Linked DNA regions of Homo sapiens. The protein of the gene in region 1 purifies or fractionates together with the protein of each later gene. This does not show direct contact. Each region holds a gene or a part of one and is shown in the gene's direction. Other genes may lie near its edges.

Evidence for each region. The genes of interacting proteins can lie anywhere in the genome.
Region 2: the proteins of UQCC2 (region 1) and CDR2 purify together in Homo sapiens (affinity purification with mass spectrometry; 2 studies listed by BioGRID and IntAct, with this or other methods). This does not show direct contact.
Region 3: the proteins of UQCC2 (region 1) and UQCC1 purify together in Homo sapiens (co-immunoprecipitation; 4 studies listed by BioGRID and IntAct, with this or other methods). This does not show direct contact.

Annotation. Positions count from the first base shown.
Region 1 is NC_000006.12:33,708,701-33,716,651, reverse strand, and holds the start of UQCC2 (ubiquinol-cytochrome c reductase complex assembly factor 2), read left to right. Parts: upstream 1-4,951; 5' UTR 4,952-4,965; coding exon 4,966-5,103; intron 5,104-5,202; exon of another isoform or gene 5,203-5,344; intron 5,345-5,404; exon of another isoform or gene 5,405-5,617; intron 5,618-5,800; exon of another isoform or gene 5,801-5,957; intron 5,958-6,888; exon of another isoform or gene 6,889-7,073; intron 7,074-7,951.
Region 2 is NC_000016.10:22,371,598-22,379,000, reverse strand, and holds the start of CDR2 (cerebellar degeneration-related protein 2), read left to right. Parts: upstream 1-4,381; 5' UTR 4,382-4,691; coding exon 4,692-4,770; intron 4,771-7,403.
Region 3 is NC_000020.11:35,408,952-35,415,944, reverse strand, and holds the start of UQCC1 (ubiquinol-cytochrome c reductase complex assembly factor 1), read left to right. Parts: upstream 1-3,971; 5' UTR 3,972-3,981; coding exon 3,982-4,005; exon of another isoform or gene 4,006-4,030; intron 4,031-5,652; exon of another isoform or gene 5,653-5,890; intron 5,891-6,993. UniProt on the Homo sapiens protein: Required for the assembly of the ubiquinol-cytochrome c reductase complex (mitochondrial respiratory chain complex III or cytochrome b-c1 complex). Involved in cytochrome b translation and/or stability.

The DNA of each region.
Region 1 (7,951 bases):
ATCAACTCCCCAAGGTGCTGGCACCACCCAGCTGCATTCCAGGCAGTGCCTATTAATGTGCTAGGAATGGCGCTGGGTGATTGACAAGCGGGTCAGTCCAGACTGGCTGAAACCATCTTCAGGCACAGGGAAAGGAAAAGGGCCTAGAAAATGATCAATAAGAGCCACTGCGATGTGTTGGCTTACTTTGTGCTGGCACTGGCCAAGGCTACACCAGGTGTATAAACACACCACGCACATGGTTTACGATGATAATGCTGCAAGGGGGCCTGAAGAGGTGCCTGAGGGAGTGGCCAAGAGCACGGCTCTGAGCCACCCAGCCTGGGCTCAAGTCCTGGCTCTGCCACTTACCAGCTGGTGACCTTATCCTCTCTGTGCCTCAGTTTCCTCAGTTTCTGTAAAAATGGCAGGATAACAGTAGTACATAAATCTGAGAGCCATTGTGAGGACTAAATGAGTCCATACATGTAAGGCATTTAGAATTGTGCCTGGGCTGGGCACAGTGGCTCATGCCTATAATCCCAACACTTTGGGAGGCCAAGCCCAGAGGATTACTTGAGTCCAGGATTCGAGATCAGCCTGGGCAACATAGCGAGACCCCATCTCCACAAAAAATAAAACAATTAACTGGGCATCGTGGTGGCCACCTGCAGTCCCAGCTACTCAGGAGGCTGAGGCTGAAGCAGGAAGATCGCTTGAGCCCAGGAATTCGAGGCTGCAGTGAGCTATGATTGTGCTCCTACACTCCAGCCTGGGTGACAGAGTGAGACCCTGTCTCTAAAAAAGAAAAAATAAAAATAAAAAATTAAAATAAAAAAAATTGTGCTGGCACATAGTAAATACTCGGTGTTAATTTATCATCATAGTTCTCATTTTAAGATGAAGAAACTGAAGCTTACAGCAATTAAATAACCCGCCTGGGGTTGGCTGCTCTGAAGACCTTTGCCTTTGCTGCCCTGTTCCTGGAAGCCTCTCATGCCCATCTTCCCGTGGCTGCCCCCTCAGGTGACTCACAAGCTGCTCAGGGATGGCCTCCAGACCACTGACCCCTCCCCTGCCCCAATCACTGTGGACCCAGCACTCTGCCTTGATCTCTCCTTCGCACTTATCACATCTGAAATTATCTTGTTCATTCAGCAAATGAGCTAATACATATAGAGCACTATTATTATTATATGTTTGCTTGGTTGCTGTCTGTCCTCATAGGGGCAGGGCCCTCACCTGTCTTGTCTACCACATGACAGGAACTCAGAGCCAGCTTCATGGGTGTGTGGCCTGCACAGTCGCCCAGGGCCCTGCACTCAGAAGGGGCTACATTTGCTTTAATGCTCTGCTGTTATTGTCTTGAAATTCTTAACAATTTTTTTAGAGACAAGGTCTCACTCTGTCACCCAGGCTAGAGTGCAGTGGTGTAATCACAGCTCACTACAGCCTCTGACTCCTAGGTTCAAAGCAGTCAAGCCATCCTCCCACACAGCTAAGACTATAGGTGTGCACCACCACATTCAGCTAATTTTTTAAATTTTTGGGGAGATGCGGGTCTCGCTATGTGGCCCAGGCTGGTCTCGAACTCCTGGGCTCAAGTGATCCTCCCGCCTCCAAGTAGCTGTGATTATAGGCACAAGCCACCACGCCCGGCCTTAACAATTTTTTAACAAAGGGCTTTACATTTTCATTTTGCACTGGGCCCCAGAAAATTATACTGATAGAGTGATCAGGGCTATAGATCAGTGAGTAAGTGAATGAATGAATGAATGAATGAATGAATGAATGAGCAAGCCTACATTCCAAACAGGTCTCTCAGACTCCATAACCCTACTACTTAACTACCATGCCAAACAACCTCCATATGGAGGAAGAGAGGTGGGCAGGGCAGTCAGAACCAGGGACAACCACAGCCTGACGGAGAAGCTAGGGTACAGGGGAAGGGAGCACCTTAGGAGGAAGCATCTGTTTGCGCTTCCTCTGGAGCCCAGCATTCTTCTCAACCTCTCATTGTCCTTGTACCTCAAGCAGCATGAAAACCATTTGCTGCCACCTAATGTTACTTTTTGGTTGCCTAAGACAGAGGGACCTTGGCTCTGCCTCCTGGGACAGATGTGGACCAGTCAGGTGCTCTTCAAAGCCACGGCTATGACAGCGCCTCGGGGCACCCAGCACAGCCCTAGGTGCCTGGACCTTGGTAAGTAAATAGATACAATCCTTGCCCTTTGTGCCTTAGGGGTGTCATCAAAACTACATGGCTATGAGGTGAGGATGGAGCAAGGAGGGACTGCTGGGCTGGGAACCTGGTGGGGTTAATCAGGGGAGCTTTCTGGAGAAGGTGCCCTTGGGCGCCTCATTTTCCACTCCCCCTGAACTCTCCTTACCTCAGCGGGCATCACACATTCTGGTCCCCAGAGGTTTTCCTTTAATGGTCTTGACTCCTAACATCTTCGGAACAGTTAAAGCCATTCCAGTTAAAATCACCCATTGATCTTTCCTCAAATTAAACTCCTCCCTCTCTTTCCCATTGCCACCCCAGGCCTGCCTCTGGCTGTTCTTGGAGCCATCCTTGATCTTCTCCCACTCTCCCCTGAACAGCAGACATCTGTTTCTCCAAACTCTCTAGCATTGTCTAACACTTCAGTTAAAGCTCTCGTCATCTGTAACTTTGTGTCCTGGTTATGTACACATTCCCAGACTTGGCCATCAACTTCTTGAAGGCAGGACTCTCCTAGATTCACCTTTAAAATGTAGGTAAGGCAAGAAGGAAAAGGTTTGGAGGAAGCAAAGTTTTGTACACATTGGATGGTCTTGGCTAAATACAGGATAGTGGAGATATACGGGGGGCTGAGGCTTTCTTATGAAAAATGCAGATGGTGGGACAGTCTTTTGAGAACAAAAATTAGTCCACATGGTGATGTAGCTAGAGACATATAAGAGAAGACTTGATAAAACAAACACATTTTAATGGGAGAAAATATTCTGAAATCACATAGCTGTGAAGGGAGTAATATCTGGAATATACAGAGAACTCCTAAAACTCAATAACAACAACAACAAAAAAAAAACCCGATTAAAAACAGGTAAAGGACTTGAATAGATATTTCTCTGAAGATATACAAATGGCTGATAAGCACATAAAAAGATACTCAATATCACTAATCATTAGACAAATGCAAGTCAAAGCTACATTGAGATACAGCCCTCACCCATTATGATGGTTACTATCAAAAAACCAGAAAATAACAAATGTTGGTAAGGATGTGGAGAAATTGGAACCCTTGTGCACCGGTGGTGGGAGTGCAAAATGGTGCAGCTGCTGTGGAAGACAGTATGGCAGTTCCTCAAAAAACTTAAAATAGAATTACCATATGATCCAGCAATTCCGCTTCTGGGTATATACCAAAAGAATTGAAAGCAAGGTCTTGAGATGTCTGTACATCCATGTTCATAGCAGCATTATTCACAAGAGCTAAAACATGGAGGCAACCTAAGTGTCTATCAATGGATGTGTAAACAAAATGTGGTATATACATGCAACGGAATATTACTCAGCCTTAAAAAGGAAGGAAATTCTGACATATGCTACAAAATGAATGAACCTTGAAGTGAAAATATTATGCTAAGCAAAATAAGCCAGTTGCAAAAATACTGCAGGATTCCACTTACATGAGGTACCTAGAGTAGTCAAAATCATACAGACAAAATAGAATGGTCGTTGCCAGGGGCTGGGGGGAGAGGGGGAAATGGGGATTTATTGTTTAATGAGTATGGAGTTTCAGTTTTACAAGAGTTACGGAGATGGTGCGATGGCTGCACAACATTATTCAGTGCTATTTCATACCCATGAACTGTACACTTAAAAATGGCTGGCTGGGCACCGTGGCTCACGCCTGTAATCCCAGCATTTTGGGAGGCCGAGGCAGGTGGATCGCCTGAGGTCAGGAGTTCGAGATCAGCCTGGCCAACATGGTAAAACCCTGTCCCTACTAAAAATACAAAACATAGCCAGGCATGATGGCGGGCGCCTGTAGTCCCAGCTACTTGGGAGGCTGAGGCAGGAGAATCACTTGAACCCGGGAGGCGGAGGTTGCGCCATTCACTGAACACCAGCCTGGGCGACAGAGCCACAGAGCAAGACTCCATCTCAAAATAAATAAATAAATAAATAAAAGGTTAAGGCCAGGTGTGGTGGCTCACACCTGTAATCCCAGCACTTTGGGAGGCCAAGGTGGGAGGATCACTTGAGCCCAGGAGTTTGAGACCAGCATGGGCCACATAGCAAGACCTTGTCTAAAAAAAATGGTTAAGATAGTAAATTTTGTTATGTGTATTTTACCACAATACAAAATAATAAATTGTAAAGAAAAAAAAAGTTTTTCTAGTCTGAATCAACACAGTTGGCATTGCTCATGCTAGAAAACCTGCGCCTCCCAGAGAAAAATGTCTGGCTTATGAGGGGTAGGAAGGGGGGAACAGAAGGGATACTAACAGGGACTGGGCAGAGAAGAACAAGAACTAGGAAGCACTAAAGAAGGAATTGAGGCCGAGTACCAAGGGATAGTGACAGGTACGGGGGCACCCACGAACAACGTTCAAACATATTTTCATCCAGTAACCTGTATTTACATGCAAATATATTGGTTTATGCAAAACAGCGGAGGCCTCGGGGGAGGGTTTTTTAGTCTCAAGCTTGTGCAGTCATTGAAAAAGAGACGCAAAGCTGTCTCTGGGGTACTCCACGTCCGCCTTGCCCCTGGGAGCTGGGCCGGTTCCAGGAGGACGAAGACTGAATTAGCTCGGCTTGCAGAGAAAGGCGAGCAGCGCCCCTACACGGAGAGTAGCGGTGCGCCTACAAAGTCGCGCATGCCCACTCCGGCCTCCCGCTCCACTCCTAAGGCAGGCGGCGAGGCTTAGTGCGCAAGCGCCATTCGTCGGCGCCGACTCCTCCCGCTAAGGCGGGAACACGCGGGGCCCAAGATGGCGGCCAGCCGGTACCGGCGTTTTCTTAAGCTCTGTGAGGAATGGCCAGTGGACGAGACCAAACGGGGCCGGGACTTGGGCGCTTACCTGCGACAGCGGGTAGCACAGGCCTTTCGGGAGGGAGAGAATACCCAGGTGACCGGCGGGGAGGCGGCTGGGACGAGGGGAGGAAAGGACGAGGCAGGGGCGGGGCCAACGAGCGCGCTAGCAGGGGGATCTGCGCATGCGCGCGCCCTCTTTCCAGGCAGCACGTGAGCGCGGACCCCCTTTTTCCCCCAGGGAGCTACTGATAGCGACGCCCGTTGTATTCAGCGCTCTCCCCCGGCTGCACCTTGGAATTGCCGAAGAAGCTTTTTTTAAACTCCAGATGGGCCGGGTGCGGCGGTTCACACCTATAATTCCAGCACTCTTTGAGAGGCCGAGGCGGGAGGATCGCTTGAGCCCAGGATGACCTCCTGGGCAACATAGTGGGACTCCGTCTCTACAAATCAAAAAACAAACAAAAACTTCAAATGCAGAATCTCTAGGGGTGGGGTCTTGACCTCAGAGTTTTAAAAGCTCTCCAGGTGATTCAAGGTGCAGAGAGAGTTGAGACCCACACCACCAGTGGCAGCTGGTGACAGCCTCAGCTTTTTGCTTCCTTGTCACGGTAGCATTACCTCATTATTTCGCAGTGTTGTGTATTGACTGAGCTAATCCCCAGTTAACTCTGCAGGTCCCCGCTAAGCGTTTGCGTTCTTCCTGAGCCCCTGTAAGCCTGTGCAGCAGGTTTGGGTCCTCAGCTCACGCAGCTGTGTGTGAGTAGTAGGCCTATGTTCTTGCTTTCCTCCAGGTTGGCGCTGCAGCTCTGGGATTCATTCATTCATATAGCTCGTATTTATTGAGCACCTACCATATGCCTGGAACGGTGCTAGGGAAACAGCAGTGTTAAACAGGTGAAGTCCTGCCCGCATGAAGTTTTACATTGTAGTTCAGGACACAATAAGCAGGTAAGTGTACGTAAGACAGATAAGTACTGTGATCGATAGAAAATAGGGTAGCGTGATAAAAGGGTAATGTTATTAGTGGGGCCTTTCTGAGGAGATGACACATAGGTGAGACCTAAGGCAAGAGGATGAGCCAGCCATGTACACTTGGCGGGAAGGACATTCCAGACACTGCACATGTCCAGAGGCAGGAGGCAGATTGACATGTTTGAGGACAGAAAGAAAGCCAGAATGGCTGCAGGGTAGTAAGTAAGGTGGAGTTTGCTAAGGTGAAGGTCCGGAGCCAGGCACAGTAGGATATTATCTGTTCTGATTAGCTTTAGACCTCATTATAAGGCCAGTGAGAAGTCACTGGGGATGTTTAGTGAGGGGACTGATGTGCCCTAATTTACTTTTTAAAAGACTATTCTGGTTGTATGTGGTGAGTGGGCTATAGGGGGCAATAACAAAAAAAGAGGCTGGAGAGAAGCCGATTATGGTACTATAAGCGACAGATGGTGGGGGGTTGGATGAGGACGGCAGCACAGAAGATGGAAGTGGTTGGATTCAGGTTATGCGCAGGTTGAGTCAGCAGGACTTGCTGATATATGGGATGTGGGATAAAGGAAAAGAGAGGAACCAAAGATAGCACCTAGATATTTTTTGGCCTGGGCATCTAGGTCTAAGATGGTGCCATTTACTGAGGTAGGAATAGGTGAAGTGTAGGAAGAATATCTCGAGTTCGGTGTTAAGCAGGTTAAACCTGAGATGCCAAGTACACTGATTTCCAAGTGGCAATGTCAAGTAGGCAGTGCTATATTTGAGCCTGGGGCTCGGGCAAGAGACCAGAAATGAAATGAGATAATGAGATGCATATACACACAGTCTGAAGAAATGACTTGTGAAACTTGGCCAAGACTTGTTACAGAAGGAACATGGGTTTTTTTTTTTTCAGCTTAGCCCGAAACAGAGCCAAGCCAGCCCACCTAAAGGAGCAGGAGCACGCCCAGTGGCATCATTGTGACTGTACTGCTGATTGGCTGGCAGCCTGGGGAGTGTCTGGCCCAGGTTATACGATACCCAGGGCCCTCACATTATTCATGGTGGTCTTCACTGGCCCAAAGTGTAAAGATCTTTAAGGCAAGAATCTTATCTAGTCCCAATTCTACAAACCCGTGAACTTTCTAAAGCTGTACTCCCTGCATATTTTTAGTATGAGCTTCCTGAAAATAGAGATGATGCCATTTTTATCTTTCCCTCTCTCCCCTACGAGTGTCTAGCTAGTTCTTGGCCCATAAAAAAACACTCAGTAAATGTCTGAATGGATAAGTAAATAATTGGTTGTGGCTCATGAGACAAAGATAATTTGAATATAGTTTCAGATGTAGCAGAACTAGATGAAGAGAAGTTGTGAAGAGTGAGAAAGGAATATTTGTGTGTCCTGAGTGGTGAGAATTGATTTGAGAGCTTACCATGTTTGGGAAATTGCAGGATCTATGGAGGAAGGCCATAACCTGGCCTTCACCACTGAGGAGCTTACAGTTGAGCAGTCAGCGGCTCCATCCTTGGGGAGGTGAGAGAGCGTAACATTCACTTGCTTGATTGTTAGTGTAAGAGGAGCCAGCAAAGGAGGAAAGAGTTTTCTCTTTCGGAGTTGTCATCACCTAGGGCAATCGTTTCTGATCAGTCAAAGGCCCACACAGGTTTGAGTCCCAGCTGCAGATGCAACTCATGGCTGTGTTAGTGATTCTGTAGCAGCTGATGAATGCATTCCTGGTAGAGTGAACCAGTGCACAATGGCAGCAGGTGCATTACTCAGGACCACTGTTGCGGTACCTCATCCTAATGTCACCTGAGAATGCACCTGGCCTTAGTAAATCTTTGTGGTAATTTTTGAAGGGCGCAATTCCTTGCTGGAATTGAAAACACTATTGTGAGTCACTCCTACTGACACCCCCAGATCATTTATAAAGACCTTGAGAAAGCAAGATGATTCTGGTAGGCTCTTCATTAAACTG
Region 2 (7,403 bases), on another chromosome or scaffold:
TTCTAAACCATGACTGAGTAGACTCTAAAAGAACAATGGAAACTTCACCAAATTTAGCACAGAAAACTGACACCAGTTTTTCAATGCAATTTTTGTTCAAGATTTTCCAGGGGAAAAGAAGTTTCCTTAAATAGTGTCCTTAAAAACAACCCAATAACACACCAAAAGACATAAAGTTTGTGGGTTTTTTTGCTTTTTTAAACTATCAATAACTTTATTTATTCACTTATTTATTTTTTTTGAGAGGAAGTCTCACTCTGTTGCCCAGGCTGGAGTGCGGTGGCATGATCTCGGCTCACTGCAACCTCTGCCTCCCGGGTTCAAGTGATTCTCCTGCCTTGGCCTCCCAAGTAGCTGGGATTCCAGGCATGCGCCACCATGCCCAGCTAATTTTTGTATTTTTAGTAGAGACGTGGTTTCACCATGTTGGCCAGGCTGGTCTCAAACTCCTGACCTCGTGATCTGCCCACCTAGGCCTCCCAAAGTGCTGAGATTACAGGCGTGAGCCACCACGCCTGACCCTCAAAAACTTTAATTCTCCATATCTTTCTTTTCTTTTCTTTTCTTTTTTAAAGGAGAATTGTTGACTGGGCGCGGTGGCTCACACCTGTAATCCTAGCACTTTGGGAGGCTGAGGCAGGCGGATCACTTGAGGCCAGGAGTTTGAGATCAGCCTGGCCAACATGGCTAAACCCTGACTCTACTTGAAACACAAAAACTAGCCGAATATGGTGGCACATGCCTGTAATTCCAGCTACTCAGGAGGCTGAGGCACGAGAATCACTTGAACCAGGGAGGTGGAGGTGACAGTGAGCAGAGATGGTGTCACTGCACTCCAGCCTGGGCCACATGGTGAGACTCTGAAAAAGAAAAAAAAAATGGAGAATTGTTAAAGAACATTTCAATATGCATTTGAAGTCAAAATGAGCTTCTGTTTTCGATGGAGCAAACAGCGGGCACTTTGAACCTTGCGAATCAGTGATAAGAATCGTGAAGGGGGCCGTGCACGGTGGCTCACACCTGTAATCCTAGCACTTTGGGAGGCTGAGGCTGGTGGATTGCCTGAGGTCAGGAGTTCAAGTCCAGCCTGGCCAACATGCTGAAACCCCATCTCTATTAAAAATTCAAAAATTAGCCAGGCGTGGTGGTGGGCGCCTTTAATCCCAGCTACTTGGGAGGCTGAGGCAGGAGAATCACTTGAACCCAGGAGGCGGAGGTTGCAGTGAGCCAAGATCACGCCATCGCACTCCAGCCTGGGTGACAAGCGTGAGACTCTCTCAAAAAAAAAAAAAAAAAAAATGCCCCTGCATGATTCTAGCCCTTTAGCTTCCACAAATCACCATTGCCAATTATTCCTAAATCCAACTTGCTATCTTTCCAAAGGGTTCTATCTTTAGTGATTAAGATAGTTTGTTTGAAGTGATCTTATTTCAACTCTGAATATCTCGATGGACAACTAGGGCAGTAGAAGAGGCTTTACAGGACCTCACTTTCTTTTCTTTCTTTCTTTTTTTTTTTTTTTTTTTGAGACAGAGTCTCACTCTATTGCCCAGGCTGGAGTACAGTGTCACGGTCTCGGATCACTGCAACCTCTGCCTCCAAGGTTCAAAGGATTCTTGTGTCTTGGCCTCCCATGTAGCTGGGATTACAGGCTTGCACCACCACTCCCGGCTAATTTTTGTATTTTTAGTAGAGATGGGCCACCTTATTGGCCAGGCTGGTCTTGAACTCCCAACCTCAGGTGATCTGCCTGCCTCAGCCTCCCAAAGAGCTGGGATTACGGCATGAGCCACTGTACACAGCCTTTTTTTTTTTTTTTTTTTTTTTTTTTTTTGAGACAGGGTCTTGCTCTGCTGTCACCTATCATAGCTCATCGTAACCTCAAACTCCTGGACTCAAGCAATTCTCTCACCTCAGCCCCCCAAGTAGCTGGGACTACAGGTGTGCCAGTAACATTTTGCCTTTTTGAAGAAAGGGATTTGTGAGTTTACCATTCCTCTTTTATTATTATTATTACTTTCTAACAGTGTTATTCCTTCTACATTTTTTGCTTGGCATCCTACTGTAAGAAAGTTTTCTTTTCTCTCCCATTTATTTATGTCAGTATGGACTCATGGATTCTTTCCTTTTTATTCAATGGGTTATAATCCATTACTATGATTATTTATTGTGATGCTCATAATTGGTCCTCAAGGGTACCTGCACTTCTACAGTATAGGTCACAAGAACACAGCCTTACATTTAAAATGAGCACAAAATACTTGCTTTCAGGGTCTCTCTGATTCAGATAGCTCTGTGAGCAAGGCAAACAATCATCTTTCCTGTAAACTGTTTGCTAAAAGGCTTCTCTGCTGGTACTGAGTATGGCGAGAACTCTAGGTTTTCTCACTCTAGGTCCCTTGTGCTTTCCACTCTATTCAGCAGTCTCCTTTAAGGACTGAAGGGTAAAACTTCAGGTAACAACTCCACAGTGGGAGGTCTTGTCCTTGGCAAGACTTCTCCAGAGTAGCCTACAGCCTATGTGTAAGGTAACCCTGGAGTCAAGTGCTGTTTGATACAGCATCAGCGTGAGGTTAGGTTATGCTGGTTTGAGCAAAGATGGGAGGCAGAGAGACACCCTGAATTTTATTACCCACAAGAATTATTCAGGATGAGTTTTTCCCCCCTTCCAAATTACCCAAGTCTTTTTTTATACAGAAAGACAAAAAAAGTAGCTTGAGTCTATAATTCCTTCCCTACAATTTCCCTTATTTTTAATGTGCAAGTAACTAAAAAAGCAAGATCACAGAAGGGTTTATAACAAAAAGCCAAAGTCCCCAGCCTCAAATCACTCCTCCTCTTAGGAAAACTTTTTTTTTTTGTTTGGTTTTTGAGACGCAGTTTTTGCCCAGGCTGGAGTGCAATGGCGCAATCTCGGCTCACTGCAACTTCCACCTCCCGGGTTTCAAGCAATTCTCCTGCCTCAGCCTTCCAAGTAGTTGGGATTACAGGCATGCGCCACCACGCCCAGCTAATTTTGTATTTTTAGTAGAGATGGGGTTTCTCCATGTTGGTCAGGCTGGCCTCGAACTCTCGACCTCAGGTGATCCGCCCGCCTCGGCCTCCCAAAATGCTGGGATTACAGGCGTGAGCCACCGTGTCCAGCCTCGGAAAACTCTTAATTGCTTCCCATTTTTAGTTCTGGCAGCTCTCTCCATATTTGTGGAAACTATTCATTGGATTATCAATGTAAGGTATTATCTGTCGACTCACTTCTAAAATAGATCAGGATTTAACACTCCTCTCCACCTCTTCCCTCTCTCTGAATTTCTAACAGTTTATTACCTCATGTTCTAGAGATAATCTTTCAATTGTATACTTAAACCTCGATTTTTTTTTGTTTCGTTGCTCAAAGTTAGTTAGATATTGGCCCTGTTGTCTTCCATCAGCTGCACCTTTACCTTTACGTCAAGGTTGAGAACATTGACCTTCAGGTCTGTCATCCTGCTTAAGAGTTTCCGTGCTTTGTCTGCAAGATGGTGCTTAAAGCTTTACCTAGGAGCAGTATTTGCTGGGTTATGTCGGTGGAGGACAGCGTGCTCTGCCTCGCTGGCTACTAAGTGCTGGAGCTGCAGCCTGTCCCCTCCAGGTGCAATGTCACGTCCCCAGATGCTTAACTTGTGGTCTAGGGGTACCTTTTAAAAATCGTTGCAACACTGCTTACAATTTTCGCCCTCCAAGTGGACAGCTTCGGGCATCCCTCACCGCCCCAGATTCTCAAGGGGGTCTGGTGCCCACCGTTTTATGTAGCGTGAGTTTAATTCCCAGGGCTCAGATGTCAAGGAGACAAGAGCTACCGCTCAGTGGGCGTTTTCTCAACCCAAACTCCCGATCGACCTCGAGTCTCCCCGCCGGACCCGGAGCAAATCTCAGAGTCAAGATGCGAGAAGGGGTGGCCGGGCGGCGGACCTCAGGCTTCCGGCACCCTTGCGCTTCCCGCCGGCACGAAGGACTCCCCTGGACAACCGCCCGCCTCTCAGAGGCCGGAGTCCTAGGCCCTCCGGCCTGCGTTGCCTGTCCACAGACGCGCCGGCCTCGGGACACCCACCACAGGGGTAAGACGCGCCTCTGCCAGCTCCCCAGCCCGAAACCCAGAACGCCCTCCTAGGAGCCTCACAGCGCAGATCAGGGGACGGGCTTTCGGCCGCACCCCTTCACTCTTTCCCCGCCTTCTTTGTTTATTCCGGACCCACCATTGGCTGCTTGCCCTCGATACCGGGCGAGCCGCCGGTCTTTGGAGAGAGGCGATTGGACGAAGTCCCTGCCGCTCGGCCAGCAGCCCGCTCGCGATTGGTTGAGGCGCCGCCGGGGGTTTGAATCGCATCCCCGGCCGGGGAGGGTTCTGCCAAAGTGCCACGTTGGGCCCGGCGGCGGCGTGAAGACTGGCGGCTGCGTGAGACTCCGGCTCCAGGCGTTCGCACCGTAATGCCCGGCCGTTGGGGCCGTCGGTAGGCGCGAGGCGAGTCGAGGCAGCCGGCCGGTCGGCGGCCGCCGGCGGGAACGGGGCTGAGGCGGCGCAGCGGAGTCTGGGCGGCGGCGCGTCCCGCCCGAGGGCGGCTCTGGCTGAGGGCGGAGGGGCCGGGGAAGAGCCCGGGGCAGCGGCTGAGGCGGGACGGCGGCGGGGGCCGCTGCCCCTAGAAGACCCAGCCGAGATGCTGGCGGAAAACCTGGTAGAGGAGTTTGAGATGAAGGAGGACGAGCCGTGGTACGACCACCAGGACCTCCAGCAAGGTGAGGGCGGGGGCGCCCCGCGGGCGGGCGGCGGCCTGGCCCGGGAGGCCCCCGCTGCGAAACTGTTAAAAAGTTGCTTTTTGTGGCGGCGGAGGATGCAGGTGCCGGGAAGGGCTCAGGCTCACCTGGCGGCTGGGCCGGCCGTGCCCGCGGATCCCGCCCGCAGGAAGCCTCGGCACGGGGCCCACGGCCTTGCTAATGCGCAGTTGAATATCAGCCCCGAGGCGCGTGGGGGCCAGGGACGAGCCAGGCACCGTTTTAAGCGCTTTCCGTGGATTAGCTAGTTTAATCCTCACTGCATTCCTCCGAGGCAGACCCGGGTGAGCCAGTGTGTCCCGCAGTAAGTGGCATAGCCCGAGAAGCCGCCCCGTCGCAGGCTGTCTAGCCCAGCGCCTTTCATGGCCAGCGTGGAGGGCCGGCTGCTGCAGGTGGTAGTTGTTTTGCGGCGTAGCGGGAGCTGTGCGCTCCGCACCGTAACTCCAGGAGACAGTAACTTTTTAAAAATTAATGTTTGAGGGTACATGGTAGGTGTATATATTTGTGGGGTACATGAGATGTTTGGATACAGGCACGCAGTGTGAAATAAGCACGTGATGGAGAACGGGGCGTCCATCCCAGCATTTATCCATTGAGGTACAAACAATCCAATTACACACTTTTGTTATCCCATTTTCCATATGAGGAAAGCGGAGATTAAAACGGTAAAGTGGCTTGCCTAAAGCTAAGTGTGGGAGGGAGTGTTTTTTGAACCCACACACTCAGAAGAAGAGTTGTAGTCACTGCTCAAACCCCATCTCTTCCTTACCATCCTAGTTTACAGTTTTTTTCAGTTGGGCGTTAAGCTGTTAGGCATAGTTCACCAGATGCCAATTGAAACGACAGAAGAAAGAGCGCATCTATCTCTGCCACTTTTCTTCAGTTTGCACGCCAGCTTTCACTTAGAAACAGGCCTGCCGATGGTGTCTCCAGAGAACAATCGTAGAGTAGCCCACTCTTTGGGGCCAGTGGGGCCCCTGTTTTTCTTATACTAATAGCAGGAGCTAGCAGTTGGGGAACACTTTTTATGTGCCTAACACTGATAGGCCCATAACACAGTTGCTCATTTAATTCTCCCAGTAACACAATAGAGGTAGTAATGTTGGGGAGTGCTAGGGTTCTCCTTAAGACTCCAGAGCAAACGTTCTTAACCGCTATACTGAGTACTGAACAATCCTCAGGAATTTTTCCAGGCATCTTCAGTTTCTGCAATTCTGTGTAAATGCTCTCAGCTCTAATCTTGCAATGAAAATTAACATCTCATTTAGTTGAATATTAAATGATCATGTTGCTTGTTCATGCTAACCACTGAACATGGCAGAAGAAAAGAATGTAGACCTGAATAACTCAGAAAAGGAAAATAAAATGAGCACCTCTTTTGGAGGAAGATAATTTCTTAAATTAACATGCAATCACTTTAACCAAAGTAATTCACCTTTATTACACTTACAGAGTCCAAGCTACTTAGTGGTTGCAGTGCAGTGTTTGGCACCATCTTCTTTATGTCCAAGAGACAAATTTATTATACATATTAACAAACCTGTTTTCAGATTTCCCCGTAAGGATTGATGGCCTAGTTTGATAGTTTCTCCAGGATTTGTGAGGCAACCACTGTACCACTGCAGTACTTCCCTATAATTTAATTTGTATCATCACAACTAAATATTTCTCTTTCCTGTATTTAAGAAGCATTAATCTTTAAGGGCATAGAGGGGGCAGGTTCTTTTTTCTTGTGTTTCCAGCATCTAGCATAATACTTGGCACATACTGGAAGCTCGATTTTAATATTTGTTGAACTGCACTGAAGCACTCGCACAGAATTGTTTTCATGGCTCTCTTCCATCAGGTGCCTTAGTCCACGCTGCATTCTCCCGCTGTGGGAGGTTGTTAGGAACAACAGCTGTAACACTTCAATCTACCGAGCAGCAAGTGCAACGTGTCAGGGTTACACGAGGAATTCTCTTTAACCTCTGATCAAAATAAAGTCATCAGCTCTTCAAGTTTAACCTTAAAAACACAGGTCTGGGCTGGGCGCAGTGACTCATGCCTGTAATCCTAGCACTTTGGGAGGCCGAGGCGGGCATATAACCTGAGGCCAGGAATTCGAGACCAGCCTGGCCAACATGGTGAAACTCCATCTCCACTAAAAATACAAAATTAGGTGGGTGTGGTGGCAGGCCCCTGTAATCCCAGCTACTCGGGAGGCTGAGGCAGGAGAATTGCTTGAAACTGGGAGGCGGAGTTGCAGTGAGCTGAGATCGTGCTATTGCACTCCAGCCTGGATGACAAGAACGAAACTCCCTCTCAAAACACACACACACACACACACACACACACACACACACATATCTGAACCTCTTTACTGCCAGTTGCATTTCTGTGTTTTTCAAAGGGCTGTTACGTTATCACAGTGGACTTTGACTTAACCCTCTGTGTCATAACCAACTATATGGAGTACGAGTAGAAGATGTGAAATTCCAACAATTGTAACTTGTGAATATGGCCTGTCAAAGAATAAAGGCTACAGTGTGAATAAAAGGGTATCCTTTCCCCAGTTTTGCTAAGTTATATGTTAACTCCTAAACTTTTAACAGATT
Region 3 (6,993 bases), on another chromosome or scaffold:
CAAGTATATGAAAAAATGCTCAGCATCATTAATCATCAGGGAAATGCAATCTAAAGCCACAATGAGATATTACCTTGCACCTGTTCGAATGGCTACTATAACATTGTTCCTAAGGACGTGGAGAAAGGGAACCCTTGCACACTGTTGGTGGAATGTAAATTAGTACACCCATTATAGAAAACAGTATGGAGGTTCCTCAAACAATTAAAAACAGAACCACCATAGGATACAGCAGTCTCACTATTGGATATATATTCAAAGGAGATGAAATCAGTATGTTGAAGAGGCATCTATACTAACATGTTCATTGCAGTGGTATTCACAACAGCCAAGTATGGAATTAACCTAAGTGTCCATTAGTGATGAACAAATAAAGAAAATGTGGTGGCTGGGCGTGGTTGTTCACGCCTGTAATTCCAGCACTTTGGGAGGCCGAGGTGGGCAGATCATGAGGTCAGGAGACCGAGACCATCCTGACCAACATGGTGAAACCCGTCTCTACTAAAAATACAAAAATTAGCTGGGTGTAGTGGTGCACGCCTGTAATCCCTGCTACTCAGGAGGCTGAGGCAGGAGAATCGCTTGAACCTGGGAGGGGGAGGTTGCAGTGAGCTGAGATTGCATCACTGCACTCTAGCCTGGTGGCAGAGTGAGACTCCGTCTCAAAAAAAAAAAAAAAAAAAAAGAAAAAAGAAAGAAAGAAAGAAAGAAAATGTGGTTTATGACCAGGTACAGTGACTCATGCCTGTAATCCCAGTACTTTGGGAGGCAGAGGTGGGCAGATGACTTGAGGCCAGGAGTTCGAGACCAGCCTGGCCAGCATGGTGAAACCCTGTCTCTACTAAAAATACAAAAATTAGCCGGACATGGTGGCACGTGCCTGTAGTCCCAGCTACTTGGGAGACTGAGGCACAAGAATTGCTTGAACCCAGGAGGTACAGGCTGCAGTGAGCTGGGATTGTGTCACTGCACTCCACCCTGGGCGGCAGAGCAAGACTCTGTCTCAAAAAAAAAAAAAAGTGATTTATATATATAATGGAATGCTATTCAGCCTAAAAGAAGAAGGAAATGCTGGCCAGGTGCGGTGGCTCACACCTGTAATCCCAACACTTTGGGAAGCCAAGGTGGGCAGATCACCTGAGGTCGGGAGCTCAAGACCAGCCTGACCAACATGGAGAAACCCCATCTCTACTAAAAATAAAAATTAGCTGGGTGTGGTGGCACATGCCTGTAGTCCAGGCTACTTGGGAGGCTGAGGCAGGAGAATTGCTTGAACCCGGGAGGGAGAGGTTGCAGTGAGCCAAGATTGTGCCACTGCACTCCAGCCTGGGCAACAAGAGCAAGACTCTGTCTCAAGGAAAAAAAAAAGAAGGAAATGCTCATATCTATGACAACATGGATGAACTGGGAGGATGTTATGTTAAGAGAAATAAATGAGGCACAGAAAGACAAACACTGCTTGATTTCTCTCATATGTGGAATATAAGTTGAACACACAGAAGTAGAGAGTAGAATGGTGGTTACTAGAGGCTGAGGAGATGTTTGTCAAAGGATACAAAATTTCAGTTAAGAGAGATAAGTTCAGGAGGCCACTTTGGGAGGCCAAGGCAGGCGGATCACCTGAGGTCGGGAGTTCGAGACCAGCCTGACCAACATGGAGAAACCCCGTCTCTACTAAAATATAATATTAGCTGGGCGTGGTGGCGCATGCCTGTAATCCCAGCTACTCAGGAGGCTGAGGCAGGAGAATCACTTGAACCCGGGAGGCAGAGGTTGCAGTGAGCCAAGATCACGCCATTGCGCTCCAGCCTGGGCAACAAGAGTGAAACTCCGTCTCAAAAAAAAAAAGAAAAGATCTATTGTATAACATGGTGACTATACCCACTATGAATATGTATTGTATTCTTGAAAATTGCTTAAAGAACATATTTTAAACATTTCCAGCACAAAAATATGAGGTAATGCATATATTAATTAGCTTGACTTAGCCATTTCACAATGTATACATATTTTAAAACATCCTGGCCGGGGGCACGGTGGCTCACTCTTGTAATCCCAGCACTTTCGGAGGCCGATGTGGGTGGATCACCTGAGGTTAGGAGTTTGAGACCGTCCTAGCCGAAATGGCAAAACCCCGTCTCTACTGAAAACACAAAAATTAGCCAGGCGTGGTGGTGCGCATCTGTAATCCCAGCTACTTGGGAGTCTGAGGCAGGAGAATCGCTTGACTTGGGAGGTGGAGGTTGCAGTGAGCCGAGATTGAGCCACTGCACTCCAGCCTGGGCGACAAGAGTGAAACTCTGTCTCAAAAAAAAAAAAAAAAAGAAAAAAGAAAACATCCTGTTGTACACAATATATATTTTTTGTCAATTAATAAAAATCAATAAATTTAATTAAAAAAATAGTCGAGTGAAGTTATTTCCCATGACTAGCTCCTCTTCTTCCTTTAGATTTCATCTTACATGTCACTTTCTTGGAGAGGCCTTACCAACCTAACCAAAGTAGCTCCCCAGTTTTAATTTTTTTCACTGGGTTCCTATGCCTCCCCCACCAGTCTAAGAACTCCATGAAGCCAGTATGTCTTGTGTTCAGCACATAGGGAAGACTCAATAGGTCTTTGTTGACTGAATGAAATGAAAGAAGTCCTTCAACATCCTGCCCCTCTGCTCCCTCAACCCCCAAAGCACCAGTACTTTGTCTTCTCTTCTCTTGGGATGTAATGGAAGAGGAGTCTTCTACCAAGGCCGTTCTCTGCCACTTTCCTCAAGAAGCTCCTTGCCTCTTTGATTGATTCTCCTGTATACTCTTTTTTTTTTTTTTTTTTTGAGACGGAGTCTCGCTTTGTCACCCAGGCTGGAGTTCAGTGCCCCAGTCTCAGCTCACTGCAACCTCTGCCTCCCGGGTTCAAGCGATTCCCTGCCTCAGCCTCCCAAGTAGCTGGGATTACAGGCACACGCCACCATGCCCGGCTAATTTTTTTCGTATTTTCAGTAGAGACGGGGTTTCACCATATTGGTCAGGCTGGTCTTGAACTCCTGACCTCAGGCAATCCACCTGCCTCGGCCTCCCAAAGTGTTGGGATTACAGGCATGAGCCACCGGGCACGGCCCTGTATACTCTTCACTAATCTTTTCCTATCAATATGCAAAGATGTTTCCCTTAAACAACCAACCAACCACAAATCCCAAAAGTTTCTTCCTCTACCAGGCTTCAGATCGGCACATGACCGCCTTCTTGCCTTGACTTTCAGGAGTCTGGTATCCCCCGTATTCTTTTATCTTAGCCTCCTTCTCTGGCTTTTTTTTTTTTTTTTTTTTTTTTTTTTTTGAGACAGAGTCCAGTCCTGCTCTGTCGCCCAGGCTGGAGTGCAGTGGCGCGATCTCGGCTCACTGCAACCTCTGCCTTCAGAGTAGCTGGGATTACAGGCACACACCAACATGCCCGGCTACTTTCTTTGTATTTTTAGTTAGGGACGGGGTTTTGCCATGTTGGCCAGGCTAGTCTCGAACTCCTGATCTCAGGTGATCCGCCCGCCTCGGCCTCCCAAAGTGCTGGGATTACAGGCGTGAGCCACCGCGCCCGGTCTTCTGGCTCTTTCTAAAGATTGGGATTTCCTAAAGTCCTGTTCTTTTCAACCTCCATTGAAAAGTGTTGGGGTGGAGTTTGGGAAGGAGGGGCTGAGGAGTGAGGCTGGGTTAGGTGGGGAATAAAGAGAGGGATATGAGAAGCCCCGAGGTCTGGGGTCAAGGAGACAGGCGTGGGGGAAGGATTTGAACCACTGTTACGTGTAGTGGGGGAGACAGCAGGGAGAGCGTGCCCGGGCACGACAGCCTGGTGCACAGCCGAGAAAACAACAGCGCGTGCGCGTAGCGACCTCTTTGCGCCTGCGCCCCCCTTGCCAGTCTTTCGCCGGCAAAAGGAGGACGTAGAAAAGGGGACACCGGAAACTCACTCTTCACCCGGAAATGGTTATTGAGGAACATGGCGTTGCTGGTGCGAGTCCTTGTGAGTGAAGGAGTAATTTTCTACGGTAGCTCTCTGGGTCCCGGGTTGGAGTTCGACAAGGCAGGGCGGGAGGAATTGGAAGGAATCGCAGGAGGGAAGCCTGTGTTATAGCTAGGCTGAGTGGCCGCTTTTCCGTGGGGAAACTGAGGCAGCTTCCGACCTCTTCCTACCCCGTTTTGACCTTAGCTCCCCCATCTTTCGAGAAGGGGAAGACTGACATCTGGCCTTTATTTGATGGGGTTTACTTTTCCTTCCCTCCCCCATGTACCTGCTTCCCCTCAGGGAGAGGAGCATGTAGGACACTGATTGGAGTTTCAGGAGGCCTGGGTTCTAGTCCCTGACTGTCACTGATGCATAGTGACTTTAAGCAAGTCACTTTTGGGCCTCATTGACCCTATGTGAAAAACGAGGACATTTATCTCCTGCAGTCCCTTTAGATTCTGAGATTCTCAGGGTTTCTTTCATAGGTAATAAGTCAGTTCTTAACTGTACAGTTAAGTGGAATATAGATTATTAGATTGAAAGCTGCGTGAGAATTGGAGTCATGTCTGTCTCCGTCGTTTTCACTTTGCCTAGCATGGTGTCTGGCACATCATAGGTGTTAAATGATTACTTGTTGAATAAATGAATGAAGTAAGGAAAGACTACCAGACTCTTTAGCACCCGTGTGTGAAACTACTGCACCTCTTGAGATTTAGTCCTGACCCTTCTAGCATACTCTTTTCTCTAGCAATTAAAGGAGAAAAGAAAGTGGCAGCAGAAAAAACGTTAGGATACAGAGCTTAGTTTTTAATCATGGAGGGATGGGAGAGTGTATAGTTTTAGCGAGTCTTCAAAAACTGGGTCAAAGACACTGTTTTTCATAGTAGACATGGTCTATTCCTGTGTCTAGGTAACTTCTGAATTGTTATTTTACATTTGTGTTTTTGATCTTTTTATATATGTCTTACAAGGACGACAGTTTTACTTCTTGTATTCCTTGCCAGCCTAGCAGAGTGAGGTACCCTCGACTGCTGTTCAGTAAATATTTATTTGTAGAGTAGCCCCTGTAACTGCCAGAAAGATTCACCTGGTGAAGTGATTGTTTGATTTCAGGCCAGAAATTGATTCAGAAATGAGGACTGCTGGGGAAATGGCAATTAGAATGTTCTGAATTTAGTGGTTTTTTTTTTTTTTTTTTTTTTAATCCTTCCCCTGCCACCCTTTAGGGTTTTGTTTTTTTTTTTTTTTTTTTTGAGGCAGAGTCTTGCTCTGTCGCCGAAGCTGGAGTGCAGTGGTGCCATCTCGGGCTCACTGCAACTTCTGCTCCCGGGTTCAAGCAATTCTCCTGTGCCAGCCTCCCGAGTAGCTGGGATGACAGGCATGCACCACACCACACCTGACTAATTTTTGTATTTTTTTTTTTTTTGAGATGGAGTCTCGCTCTGTCACCCAGGGTGGAGTTCAGCGGTGTGATCTCGGCTCACTGCAACCTCTGCCTCCTGGGTTCAAGCAGTTCTCCTGCTTCAGCCTCCCAAGTAGCTGGGATTACAGGCGCCTGCCACCACACCTGGCTAACTTTTGTATTTTTAGTAGAGATGGAGTTTCACCATGTTGGCCAGACTGGTCTCGAACTCCTGACCTCATGATCCGCCTCCTGCGGCCTCCCAAAGTGCTGGGATAACAGGCATGAGCCACCGAGCCTGGCCTGACAACTATCATTTTATAGGGCACTTACTACGTGCTAAGCACTTTAAAATACTTACCTAATCCTTATAACATCCCTTTGGAAAGGAGGGCGTGTTATTTCCTCTATTTTACAGATAAGAAAACTGAACCACAGAGAGGTATTCCTGGCCAGGTGCCGTGGCTCACACCTGTAATCCCAGCACATTGGGAGGCTGAGGTAGGTGGATCACTTGAGGCCAGGAGTTCAAGACCAGCCTGGCCAACGTGGTGAAACCCTGTCTCTACTAAAAATACAAAAATTAGCCAGGCCTGGTGGTGGGCGCCTGTAATCCCAGCTACTCGTGAGGCTGAGACACGAGAATTGCTTCAACCCAGGAGGCGGAGGTTGCAGTGAGCTGAGATTGTGCCACTGCAGTCCAGCCTGGGTGAAAGAGTGAAACTCTGTCTGAAAAAAAAAAAGAAGTATTCCTGAAACATTCTTGTTAGTCTTGCTTTATTTTTTCCTCTTTTTGTCTTGTCAGCCAATATTTTCCCTTCTCCAGTGATGGTTTTGGGAAGGAGGAGGAAACTAAAACACTGCTATTGTTGAATGACTACAGCAGAGAGCCTGGACATTTGATCAGTGGAACTGGACATGCTTATGGTTTTTATGAGTTGTCCTGGGCATTGCTGATCATTTCTGCTTTTCTTTGGAAATAGTAAAAATTGCAGAAAGCCACCCTGTACTTTAGAAAATTAAAAAAAAGTTGTGGTAAAATACATGTAACAAAATTTACCTTTTAAACTTTTTTTTTTTTTTCTGAGACGGAGTTTTGCTCTTGTTGCGCAAGCTGGAGTGCAATGGCGTGATCTTGGCTCACTGCAACCTCTGCCTCCCGGGTTCAAGCGATTCTCCTGCCTCAGCCTCCTGAGTAGCTGGGATTACAGGCACGTGCCACTACGTTCAGCTAATTTTTTGTATTTTTAGTAGAAATGGGGTTTCACCATTTTAGCCAGGCTGATCTTGAATTCCTGACCTCAGGTGATCTGCCCGCCTTGGCCTCCCAAAGTGCTGGGATTACAGGCATGAGCCACTGTGCTTGGCCACCTTTGAAACTTTTTAAGTGTACAGTTCTGTGGTATTGAGTGCATTTACATTGTTGTGCCATCTTTACCACCCTTATCCACAGAATTATTTTCATTTTATAAAACTGAAACTCTGAACCTATTAATAACTCTCTATAGTCTTTTCTCCCCAGCCCCTGGCAGCCACCATTCTACTTTCTGTCTCCGTGAGTTTAACTACTTTGTGTACCTCATATAAGTGGAATCATACAGTAT